Linked DNA regions of Homo sapiens: region 1 is linked to region 2. The links come from fine-mapping of genetic effects on gene expression. Tissue or cell type: whole blood. Region 2 holds a variant in brackets; the other region holds the start of a gene. All regions are shown on one strand. Distances are between the middles of the regions.

Region 1 (5,104 bases), 20 kb after region 2:
GCTAGGATTACAGGCACGTGCCACCATGTCAGGCTAATTTTTGTATGTTTAGTAGAGACGGGGTTTCACCATTTTGGCCAGGCTGGTCTTGAACTCCTGACCTTGTGATCCACCTGCCTTGGCCTCCCAAAGTGCTGGGATTACAGGCATGAGCCACCATGCCCCGCTGGAATATTGACTTCTATACAGGCAGGGGAAGATGGGGAACATTATACAACTAAAGATTTTTTTTTTTTTGAGGTGGAGAATGTGGCCCCAACAAGATGAGGATGGAGGCCATTGGAGATACTATGAGACTTCAGGATATAAAATGGGAAAGTGCCTGAAAAATATGGGACATTGAGGATAAGCAGGATTTGGTGTTCAAGAATGAGGGAAACAATGCTGGTATATTGTGGAGTCTCTTAAGAAGGAAGGACATGAACATATTATAGGATTTCAGTATTAGGAATGCTGGATGGATGAACATTGCTTTCCAAGAAAAATCCCCTAGTAAGTAGGGAACAGATAGGAGATCATGTTGACTATGGTCTATACCCATAAATCCTTTAAGTATCATCTTCCAGCCTCTAGAAGGACCACGATAAATCTTATTGGGATATGTTCTCTCTTGGAACCAGTGGGATTTTATTTTCTGTAACAGGAAATTGGGAAACAGTGCTCAGCAGTTCTCCCTTGGCACCATTCTGTCGTGTATCATAGTTTGCTTGGTTGCTTATGCTTTTTGAAGGGAGGCCCCCTGGTCTTCCTTGATTCTCCATGGTGCGGAGCTCGGCCTTGCTAGGTACTCTGTCAACACAGGTTGAATGAACATGAGTAGTGGTGAGTAGCGGGAGGGCAGGCCTTCACTCTTGGTGTGTATAGAGCAGGAACCTGAGTTCACATCGTGATGGGATGTCCATCCCCAGGAATGGCCTGGGGGTGTTGGTGAAAGATCCCTGACCTGGGGATGTGGTGAGGGGGAGGATTGCTAGAATGTTGAGAGATAGTCTTTGGATGGGAGTTGGTAATTATTATGGGATGCTGTAGGGTGAATTAGACTTCATGTAAATGTTTCATCTGTCAGCTTGGTATTTTGGTTGGTTGGTGTTCCTCAAAACTTAGGAGCTGGAGGTAAGCATCTGGAAAATACCTAGATTTTGGTGGGACTGGGTGGGGCCCTAGGTGGGCTCCCAGCCCCCGAGTGTCTGGAAATGATGGTATGAGGGAAGCTGGGGTCCCAGACATCAGGAGGCTTTTTGCCAGGATACTACTTTGGCCCAGAAAGGGATTAAGGTGTGTGCAAGTGGGGGCGGGGACAAGGAAGCGTGGGTAGCCTGCCTGGCCCTCCCTGCTCTGGGTGTTAGAATAGACTGACAGCGCCTGGAGATGGGGGTGGGAAGAATATGAATATTATGGGATGCCTGGCTCGAAGGGTATAGGGGTGGTAGAGTGGAGATGAAGCATTATGGGATGTGACACTGGGTTGTGTTGGGAGTATTATGGTATGTTTGGTTGACCACGGGCTCCTTGCAATTATTATGGGATGTCAGGATGTGGGTAGGAGAGTAAAATTATTATGGGATAGCTTTCCAGTGTTAGAGGAAAAGAGATTAGATGTCCATCTGTGGGGCGACAGTAGGGCTGTTGATCATTATGGGTTATCTTTTTGATAGAGGAGGGGTACTTACTATAGGCTGTGGAGCTAGAAGAGGGAAGGCTGGGGGTGATGTGAGCCTCTAGACCCTGGCCTGCAGGGACTGAGGGCAGCTCTAGGGGGTTAGTTATTATGGGATGTCAGTATAGAAAGTGGGAGACTGATTATTACGGGATGTGTGTGGGAGGAGGCCGAGTGTCCGTTGTTGTAGTATGGGGGGGGGTGAGTTTCTGACTATTATGGGATATCAAACTGGGGGTGGATGAAGGATGGTTATTATGGGATGTCTGTGGGGGATGGGGCTGAATATTATGGGATATGAGGCATAAGTGCTGCGAGGGGTGCTTATTATGGGATGGCCATGGGGAGGGAGGGGTGATGAATTATTATGGGATGTTAGCATTAGGTCCAAGAGTGAAGAAGAAGTTGGCAAAGGATGTCTATTATGGGATGTCTAAGAGGGTTAGTTGCAAAAGGTCTGCAATATTTTGAGATGTCAGCAGTCTCTGGCATATGTGTATGAAATGTGGGGGGGCAGGGTGTGTGTGTGTTGTGTGTGTGTGTGTGTGTGTGTGTGTGTGTGTGTGTGTGTGTGTTGGGGGGGGGGGTGTCCGTGTGTATTATGGGATGGCCAGGAGGTGGGCGGTTGCCCAGGTGACGCGCGCGCGCCCGCTGCGAAGGGGGCGTGGCCAGTGGTTGCCTGAGCGACGAGGGGGCGGGGGTTGCCCGGGAGACCTGGGGAGGAGGGTGGCGGTAGTGGAAGGGGGGGGTTGGAGTTGGTTGAGGTTATTATGGGCTGTCCGTGGGGGGGCGGGGCCTGTGCGGTGGGATTTCCCGGCCGGTGTTTCAGGCCCTTTAAGAGGCGACGCTGGAGCCGGAGCCATTTTCCCCCCTTCGGCCGCGGCGAGGAGGAGCCGGAGCGGGAGTGACACCGAGCCGGACCCAGCGCGACCTGCGGCGGCTCCGGGGTGAGGAGAGCGCGGGGTTCCCAAAGAGACGCCCCTCACGGCCCTACCAGCCCCGAGGGTCATCCCGTCACCCGCCCCTTCCTCAGGCGTCTCCGGACCCGCGGACCGCCCCTTGCCCAGAGGAGCCGACCCTTCCTTTCCTGGCCCTGCAGGGCGCCCGGCCTCCTCCCCAGCCCCCGCCCTAACCCTGCCGGAGTCTTGCTCCCCGCGACCCCCCGCCTCCGGCTTGGTCTCCCACAATGCCCGGCGCCCACCCCCTCGCCCTTTGATCACTTGCCCCCCGGGACACGTGGCCCGGCCCCCTTCCCGGTGGGACGCTTTCGCCCCCCGCGTCCCTGCCTCCGGCCCCCCGCAGCGCCCGAGCCTCCACGCCCCCTCGTCCCCGCAGCTCTTGAGGAGAACCTGAGTTGTCCCAGAGGACAGCCTTTGGAGAGCTGCCCTGTCTGGGGACTGGCCCCTCCCCGGGCGCAGGGAGGCGCCCCCCCACCCCCAAGTGACCTTGTGTCCCCGAGCGCCTCGCCGCCTGCGGCCTCCCCTGGCCCCCCCGCGCCGCTGCCACTCGGACCCCCTCCCCCGTCACACCCCGCTCGGTCCAGCCCCGCGTCTCCCCTCCCCGCGCTTGCACCAGCCTGCCCTCGGAGGCGTCGCTCCCTCGCTCCGTGGGGGCGCCTGCCGGGGAGCCGGCTTCCGGGCTGCCCCCGAGGAGTGTGGAACTAAGTTCAGCCTGAGCGGTTCGGGTGCCCTGCTAGGGTGGCTGGGGTGGGGGGCGGAAAGAGCGGGTGGGTGTGGGGGAGGGGGACAGTGCGCGTCACTGACTGTTCTGTGTTTCTCCCCCCTCCCCCGCACAGTGACTCGGGCCAGTGTAGAGGTCCTCAGGCCGCCGGCAGGAGCAGCTGGGCCAATTCCCTGGCCGGGAGCGGAAGGGGATGGCGTCGGGCCTGGGCTCCCCGTCCCCCTGCTCGGCGGGCAGTGAGGAGGAGGATATGGATGCACTTTTGAACAACAGCCTGCCCCCACCCCACCCAGGTAACATCTTCCCCAAGGGCCCATGGCGGGAAGGAGACATCTGGGGCTCTCCCGAGTGACTCCTCTGGTGAGGCAGGGCTGTGTTGCTCCGCTGTCTCTGTGCAGAGCCGGAGGTGGAGGGTATCCGAAGGGAGTGGTTCCCTTCTGCGGAGCTCTGGTGTGAGGGGGGTGGAAGCCATGTGCCTCCTGGGCACGGAGATGCCAGCTTGCTGCACTCTGTCTTGAGGAATGCTCTGCAGTTCCCAGTTGAGGGAGCTCTCTGGGCTGGCAGGCATTACCTGGTATGTGGGTCCTCGGAGGAATGCAGGTAGCTGGGACCCCTGGAGGCTTGTGGTGGTGGTGGTGGAGGGGGGCGTTGAGGATTCTGTTTGAAAGACCAGCCGGGCATCTGTGCTAGTAGGATCCTGTGGTTGCTGCTGTGGAAAGGAAAGAGGGAGTGCTGGTTACACTCTATCTGATTATTTTTAGCTTCTGATCGGTTACCGGTTTTCTGTGCTGTCTGAACTGTGTGAAGTTTGAATCGCGCTCCTCAGCAGGATCTGGAGTGCTTAAAGCAGCCAGGCAGATTGCTGGAATGTTTTGAGTGGGGAAGTGATGGGGGCTCGGGGAGGATGTAATAGCCTAGTGAAGAGGGGCAAAAGAAGGGAGGGCACTCCTCCTCCTGGTGAGTGGACATAGTTTTGGCTTTTTTCCTAGTGGCTTCTGTCTCTATGAGGTAGCCTGCGGTTTAGGCTGGCAGTGTGAAGTGTCTGTGTAGGTGTGCTAGGGGTTACGCTATCTGTGTTTTGGGGTGGCTTCATGAACTGGCCAAACCCGTATGGTTGTAACCACCCTGTCTGATTGGGGGAACTGTTGTCTATCCTCAAATGATGGTTGATGTCATGCCCCTAAGCAGATGTCTTTCTCTTCTGTGTCCTTTTTCAGAGCCCCTAGCTGTGTCACCTACTCATCTCCTTGACCTTCATGTTTTCTAGTTTAATTTTTTTTTCTACATGTCATTTCTTCATTCCTTCTGCTTCTAGTTTTCTTCTCATTCTGGAGCCTGCTGATCCTGTTTTTGTTTCTCATCCAGCATCATTCACTTCTGCCTTCTCTCTTCTTAGCTTCAGTGGAAGTTGAGGTGGTCTGGGAGAGATGCTTTCACATTTGGCACTTTTTAAGTTGGAATTCTTCACTTCAACCTGAGGCCATTTAGGAGAGGGGTTAGTGTTGTCATGGAGTCTGGGCTGTTGGGATGAGAAACTTGGTTTCATCCTTGTGTAGAGTAGGGGGCAGATTTCCATGCCCTTGCCCAAGGTGAGGGCGGAGTTGTGGTGCTGGTAAGGGGACCCTGTCCTTCTGAGAGGGGCATGAGAAACAGTAGTGCTGCCTAAACATTCTGGGTTCCACGTCTTGGCCTCCCATTGGCCACTTGGGCTGGGGCTGCCTTTCATGTTGACCGGGAGCTGCGCAGGAGCTGTGAACTCTGTCCTGA
Region 2 (5,193 bases):
TACAGATGCCGCCACCATGCCTGGCTAATTTTTGTATTTTTAGTAGAGATGGGGTTTTCACTATGTTGACCAGGCTGGTTTTGAATGCCTGACCTCAGGTGATCCGCCCGCCTCAGCCTCCCAAAGTGCTGGGATTACAGGTGTGAGCCATCACTTCGCCTAACTTTACCTTTAAGTAGCCGCTCAACTAATAATCTTGGTCTATTTAACATTTTAATTTTTTTTTTTTTTTGACGGAGTCTCACTCTGCCATCTAGGCTGGAGTGCAGTGGCGCAATCTCGGCTCACTGCAACCTCTGCCTCCCGGGTTCAAGCGATTCTCCTGCCTCAGCCTCCCGAGTAGCTGGGATTACAGGCAGGTGCCACCAAGCTCGGCTAATATTTTGTATTTTTAGTAGAGATGGGCTTTCACCATGTTAGCTAGGATGGTCTTGGTCTCCTGACCTCATGATGCACCCACCTTGGCCTCCCAAAGTGCTGGGATTACAGGTGTAAGCCACCGCGCTTGGCCCTTTTTTTTTTTTTTTTGAGACAGAGTCTCGCTCTGTTGGCCAGGCTGGAGTGCAGTGGCACGATCTCGGCTCACTGCAACCTCCGTCTCCCGGGCTCAAGCAATTCTCCTGCCTCAGCTTCCCGAGTAGCTGGGATTACAGGCGTGTGCCACCACCCCTGGCTAATTTTTGTATTTTCAGTAGAGATGAGGTTTCACCATGTTGGCCAGGCTGGTCTCGAACTCCTGACCTCAGGTAATCCGCCCACCTCGGCCTCCCAAAGTGCTGGGATTACAGGCGTGAGCCACCGTGCCCGGTACATTGTAACTTTTTCAACAGAAAGACTTGAGATCAGCCAGGCACAGTGTAATCCCAGCACTTTGGGAGGCCAAGGCAGGCGGATTACCTGAGGTCAGGAGTTCGAGACCAGCCTGGCCAACATAGTGAAACCCAGTCTTCTCTACTAAAAATACAGAAATTGGCCGGGCATGGTGGTTCACGCCTGTAATCCCAGCATTTTTTGGAGGCTGAGGCGGGCAGATCACCTGAGGTTGGGAGTTCGAGACCAGCCTGACCAACATGGAGAAACCCCATCTCTACTAAAAATACAAAATTAGCTGGGCGTGGTGGCACATGCCTGTAATCCCAGCTACTAAGGAGGCTGAGGCAGGAGAATCGCTTGAACCTGGGAGGCAGAGGTTGCGGTGAGCGGAGATCGTGCCATTGCACTCCAGTCTGGGCAACAAAAGTGAAACTCCATCTCAAAAAAAAAAAAAAAAAAGAAATTAGCTGGGCGTGGTGGTGAGCGCCTGTAATCTCAGCTATTCAGGAGGCTGAAGCAGGAGAATCACTTGAACCCGGGAGGCGGAGGTTGCAGTGAGCCGAGATTCTGCCACTTCACTGCAGCCTGGGTGACAGAGCATGCGAAACTCCATCTCAAAAAAGAAAAGGAAGGAAGGAAGGAAGGAAAGAAAGAAAGACAGACTTGAGGTTCTTTGAAAATCATCCATCCACTCATTCAGTGTCTAGTATATGCTTTCTAATTGGAAGGATCTACTGGTTCTCCAAGTAATGGTTAAGAATGATCAAGTGGGCCTGGCGCGGTGGCTCACGCCTGTAATCCCAGCTCTTTGAGAGGCCAAGGCGGGCAGATCACGAGGTCAGGAGATAGAGACCATCCTGGCTAATACAGTGAAACCCCAGCTCTACTAAAAATACAAAAAATTAGCCGGGTGAGGTGGCAGGTGCCTGTAGTCCCAGCTACTCGGGAGGCTGAGGCAGGAGAATGGCGTGAACCCGGGAGGCAGAGCTTGCAGTGAGCCCAGATTGAGCCACTGCACTCCAGCCCGGACGACAGAGCAAGACTCTGTCTCAAAAAAAAAAAGAAAAAAGAAAAAGAAAAGAATGATCAAGTGATACTGTAATCATAGTGTAAACTGTTATTGAAATCTTGTTTGCAAGCTGTTTCCAAACAGGTCTTTTAAGGGAAGTGGTCTTTTACTGAGTTATACATTTGGACAAGATTGATACAAGAGCTATTATCACAGGATTAGAGCGTGGGCGGGGGTAGTTGGGGGCGGGATGGGTGTAGGAGGTGGGGAGGGTGGATTTCCTGTTAAGCAGCCAATGAGTATCGCTCAGGACCTGCTAAATGCAGAGAGTGAAATGTGTCTGCAAGGTGCGCTCCCACCCTAGGAGCTTACCATCTAGTTGGGGAAATAGAACAAATATACAT[A/G]AAACGATTGAGGGGCTCAAAACAGCAAACTAAGTGCTTACGTATGCACTTAAGGGGGAATTTTAAGGAGGTTTATTTATTTTTTTGAGATGGAGTTTCGCTTTTGTCACTCAAGCTGGAGTGCAGTGGCACGATCTCTGCTCACTGCAACCTCCGCCCCTTGGGTTCAAGCAATTCTCCTGCCTCAGCCTCCCGAGTAGTTGGGATTACAGGCACCTGCCACCTCGCCCGGCTAATTGTTTGTATTTTTAGTAGAGACGAGGTTTCACCATGTTGGCCAGGCTGGTCTCGAACTCCTGGCCTCGTGATACGCCTGCCTCGGCCTCCCAAAGTGCTGGGATTACAGGCGTGAGCCACCATTCCCGGTCTATTTACTTATTTTTATTTAGACGGAGTCTCACTCTGTTGCCCAAACTGTAGTGCAGTGGCATGATCTTCGTTCACTGCAACCTCCGCCTCTTGGGTTCAAGTGATTCAAGGAGGCATATTTATGTGTATGTGTGAAAGATGAGTTTATGTCACCACTTTTGGAAGTGGTTATTTTTAATAACCCACTTCAAATAACCCACTTTATACATTTCAGTTGGACAATGAGGAAGTGAAATAATGTATCTATGTTAGATATTATGTATAGAAATTAAAATATGGTGATGATCAGTAAATGATACCTATTATTTTTAACATTTACAGAGGTAGGTGCTGAGAATACACAAAGATGAATAAGCCATGGTCCACAGCCCCTCCCTCTAAGAGTTCACAGTCTAATGGGAGGGGCAGACCAGGAACAGCTGACTACCATGCATGGGGAGAGCTCTGATAAACCTGCGCACTGTTGCGGAGGCACAAGTGAGGGTACCACATCCGCCTTGTGTTGCGGGGGCGGTTAGGGAAGGCTTTGCAGAGTCCTGAGAAAATACTAGGCTTGCCAGTTGGAGAACGGGAGGCAGGGCATTCCAAGTTGAAGAAACACCACATACAAAGGCAGAGTCCTGAAAACATAAGGTATGTCCACAATTAGTATTAGTTTGGTGTGAATGGAGCAAAGGAGCATGGAGCAGGGGAGTGTATCAGAAATGAGCCTGGTTTTACTTGCTTTTCAGCATGTTTAAGTCTCATTTGGTATTATTTTCATTGTTGAGACTGGTATTTTGCAGAGGAAGTATTTCTTTATTCCCTTTAACTGTTTTACTATATCTCTTACAAGTCTCAAACTGCTGATGGTGGTGGTTGGAAGGAGAACAAAACCAAATACAAGAAAAACTTGTGGCCAGGTACAGTGGCTCATGCCTGTAATCCTAGGACTTACAGAGCCCAGGGCAAAAGGATTGCTTGAGCCTGAGTTTAAGACCAGCCTGGGCAACACAGTCAGACCCCGTTTCTATGAAAAAATTTTTTCTTTTTTTGAGATGGAGTCTTGCTCTGTTGCCCAGGCTGGAGTGCAGTGGCGCGATCTTAGCTCACTGCAACCTCTGTCTGCCTCCTGGGTTCAAGCGATTCTCCTGACTCAGTCTCCCGGGTAGCTGGGATTACAGGCACCTGCCACTATGCCTGGCTATTTTTTTGTATTTTTAGTAGAGACGAGGTTTCACCATGTTGGCTAGGCTGGTTTCGAGCTCCTGACCTCAAGTGATCCACCCACCTCAGCCTCCCAAAGTGCTAGGATTACAGGCATGAGCCACTGCCCCTGGCCATCTACAAAAAATTTAAAAATTAGCCAGGGATGGTGGCACACGCCTGTAGGTCCAACTACTCAGAGACTGAGGTAAGAGGATCACTTGAATCTGGGAGTTCAGGACTGCAGTGGGCCAAGATCGAGCCACTGCTTTCCAGCCTGGACCACGGAGTGAGACCCTGTCTCAAAAAAAACAAAAAACAAAAAACAAACAAAAAACTTGTTATAGCCAGATTTATGACTTATTTTCTTGCAACAATTTAAACAGTTCCTTTTTTTTTTTTTGAGACGGAGTCTCACTGTCGCCCAGGCTGGAATGCAGTGGCGTGAACTCGGCTCAGTGCAAATTCTGCCTCCCGGGTTCCCGCCAGTCTCCTGTCTCAGCCTCCTGAGTAACTGGGACTACAGGCGCCCACCACCACGCTCAGCTAAATTTTTTTGTATTTTCAGTAGAGACGAGGTTTCACCATGTTAGCCAGGATGGTCTCGATCTCCTCACCTTGTGATCCGCCCGCCTTGGCCTCCTAAAGTGCTGGGATTACAGGCATGAGCCACCGCGCCCGGCCCTCTTTTTTTTTTTTTTTTGAGACGGAGTCTCTGTTGCCCAGGCTGGCGTGCAGTGGCTCAATCTCGGCTCACTGCAAGCTCCGCCTCCCGGGTTCATGCCATTCTCCTGCCTCAGCCTCCTGAGTAGCTGGGACTACAGGCGCCTGCCACCACGCCCGGCTAATTTTTTGCATTTTTAAAAGAGACGAGATTTCACCGTGTTAGCCAGGATGGTCTCAATCTCCTGACCTCGTGATCCGCCTGCCTCGGCCTCCCAAAGTGCTGGGATTACCAGCGTGAACCACCACGCCCGGCCTAAACAGTTCCTTTTGAAAGTAATAAGCTCGGTGTCTTGGGATAATTGCTCAGGGTCTCAGACAACTTCTCTCCCTAAGATGACATCTAGACACCCATGTTCACAGTGGCATTATTCACAATAGCCAAAAGGTGGAAAGAATCCAAGTATTCACTGACAGATGAATGGATGAGCAAAACATTATACAATGAAATACATTATTCAGCTATAAAAATGAAATTCCAGGCCAGGTGCGGTGGCTCACATCTGTAATCCCAGCACTTTGGGAGGCCGAGCCGGGTGGATCACCTGAGGTCAGGAGATCGAGACCAGCCTGACCAACAGGGAGAAACCTCGTCTCTACTAAAAATACAAAATTAGCCAGGCGTGGTGGCGCATGCCTGTAATCCCAGCTACTTGGGAGGCTGAGGCAGGAGAATCGCTTGAACCCTGG

Evidence for each region. PIP is the estimated chance that this variant, and not a neighbour inherited with it, causes the effect.
Region 1: CHD4 starts here. The variant in region 2 is fine-mapped to the expression of CHD4 in whole blood (TOPMed, PIP 0.99).

The regions. Positions count from the first base shown.
Region 1 is chr12:6,604,800-6,609,903 of GRCh38, reverse strand. CHD4 (chromodomain helicase DNA binding protein 4) reads left to right here and starts at 2,525. Exons shown (of 40, transcript NM_001273.5): 1 at 2,525-2,604; 2 at 3,453-3,630. The coding sequence starts at 3,531. LOC124902867 (a long non-coding RNA gene) reads right to left here and starts at 4,018. Exons shown (of 2, transcript XR_007063193.1): 1 at 3,909-4,018; 2 at 594-789. RefSeq lists enhancers at 1,905-2,054, 3,795-3,954 and silencers at 2,645-2,744, 3,155-3,214, 3,395-3,444.
Region 2 is chr12:6,624,711-6,629,903 of GRCh38, reverse strand. All of the region lies in intron 1 of LPAR5 (lysophosphatidic acid receptor 5), which reads left to right. LOC105369631 (a long non-coding RNA gene) reads right to left here. Exons shown (of 4, transcript XR_007063192.1): 4 at 3,138-3,215. Among named protein-coding and RNA genes, the nearest start is that of LPAR5, 8.7 kb to the left of the region's middle. The variant A/G (reference allele first, on the strand shown) is at 2,227.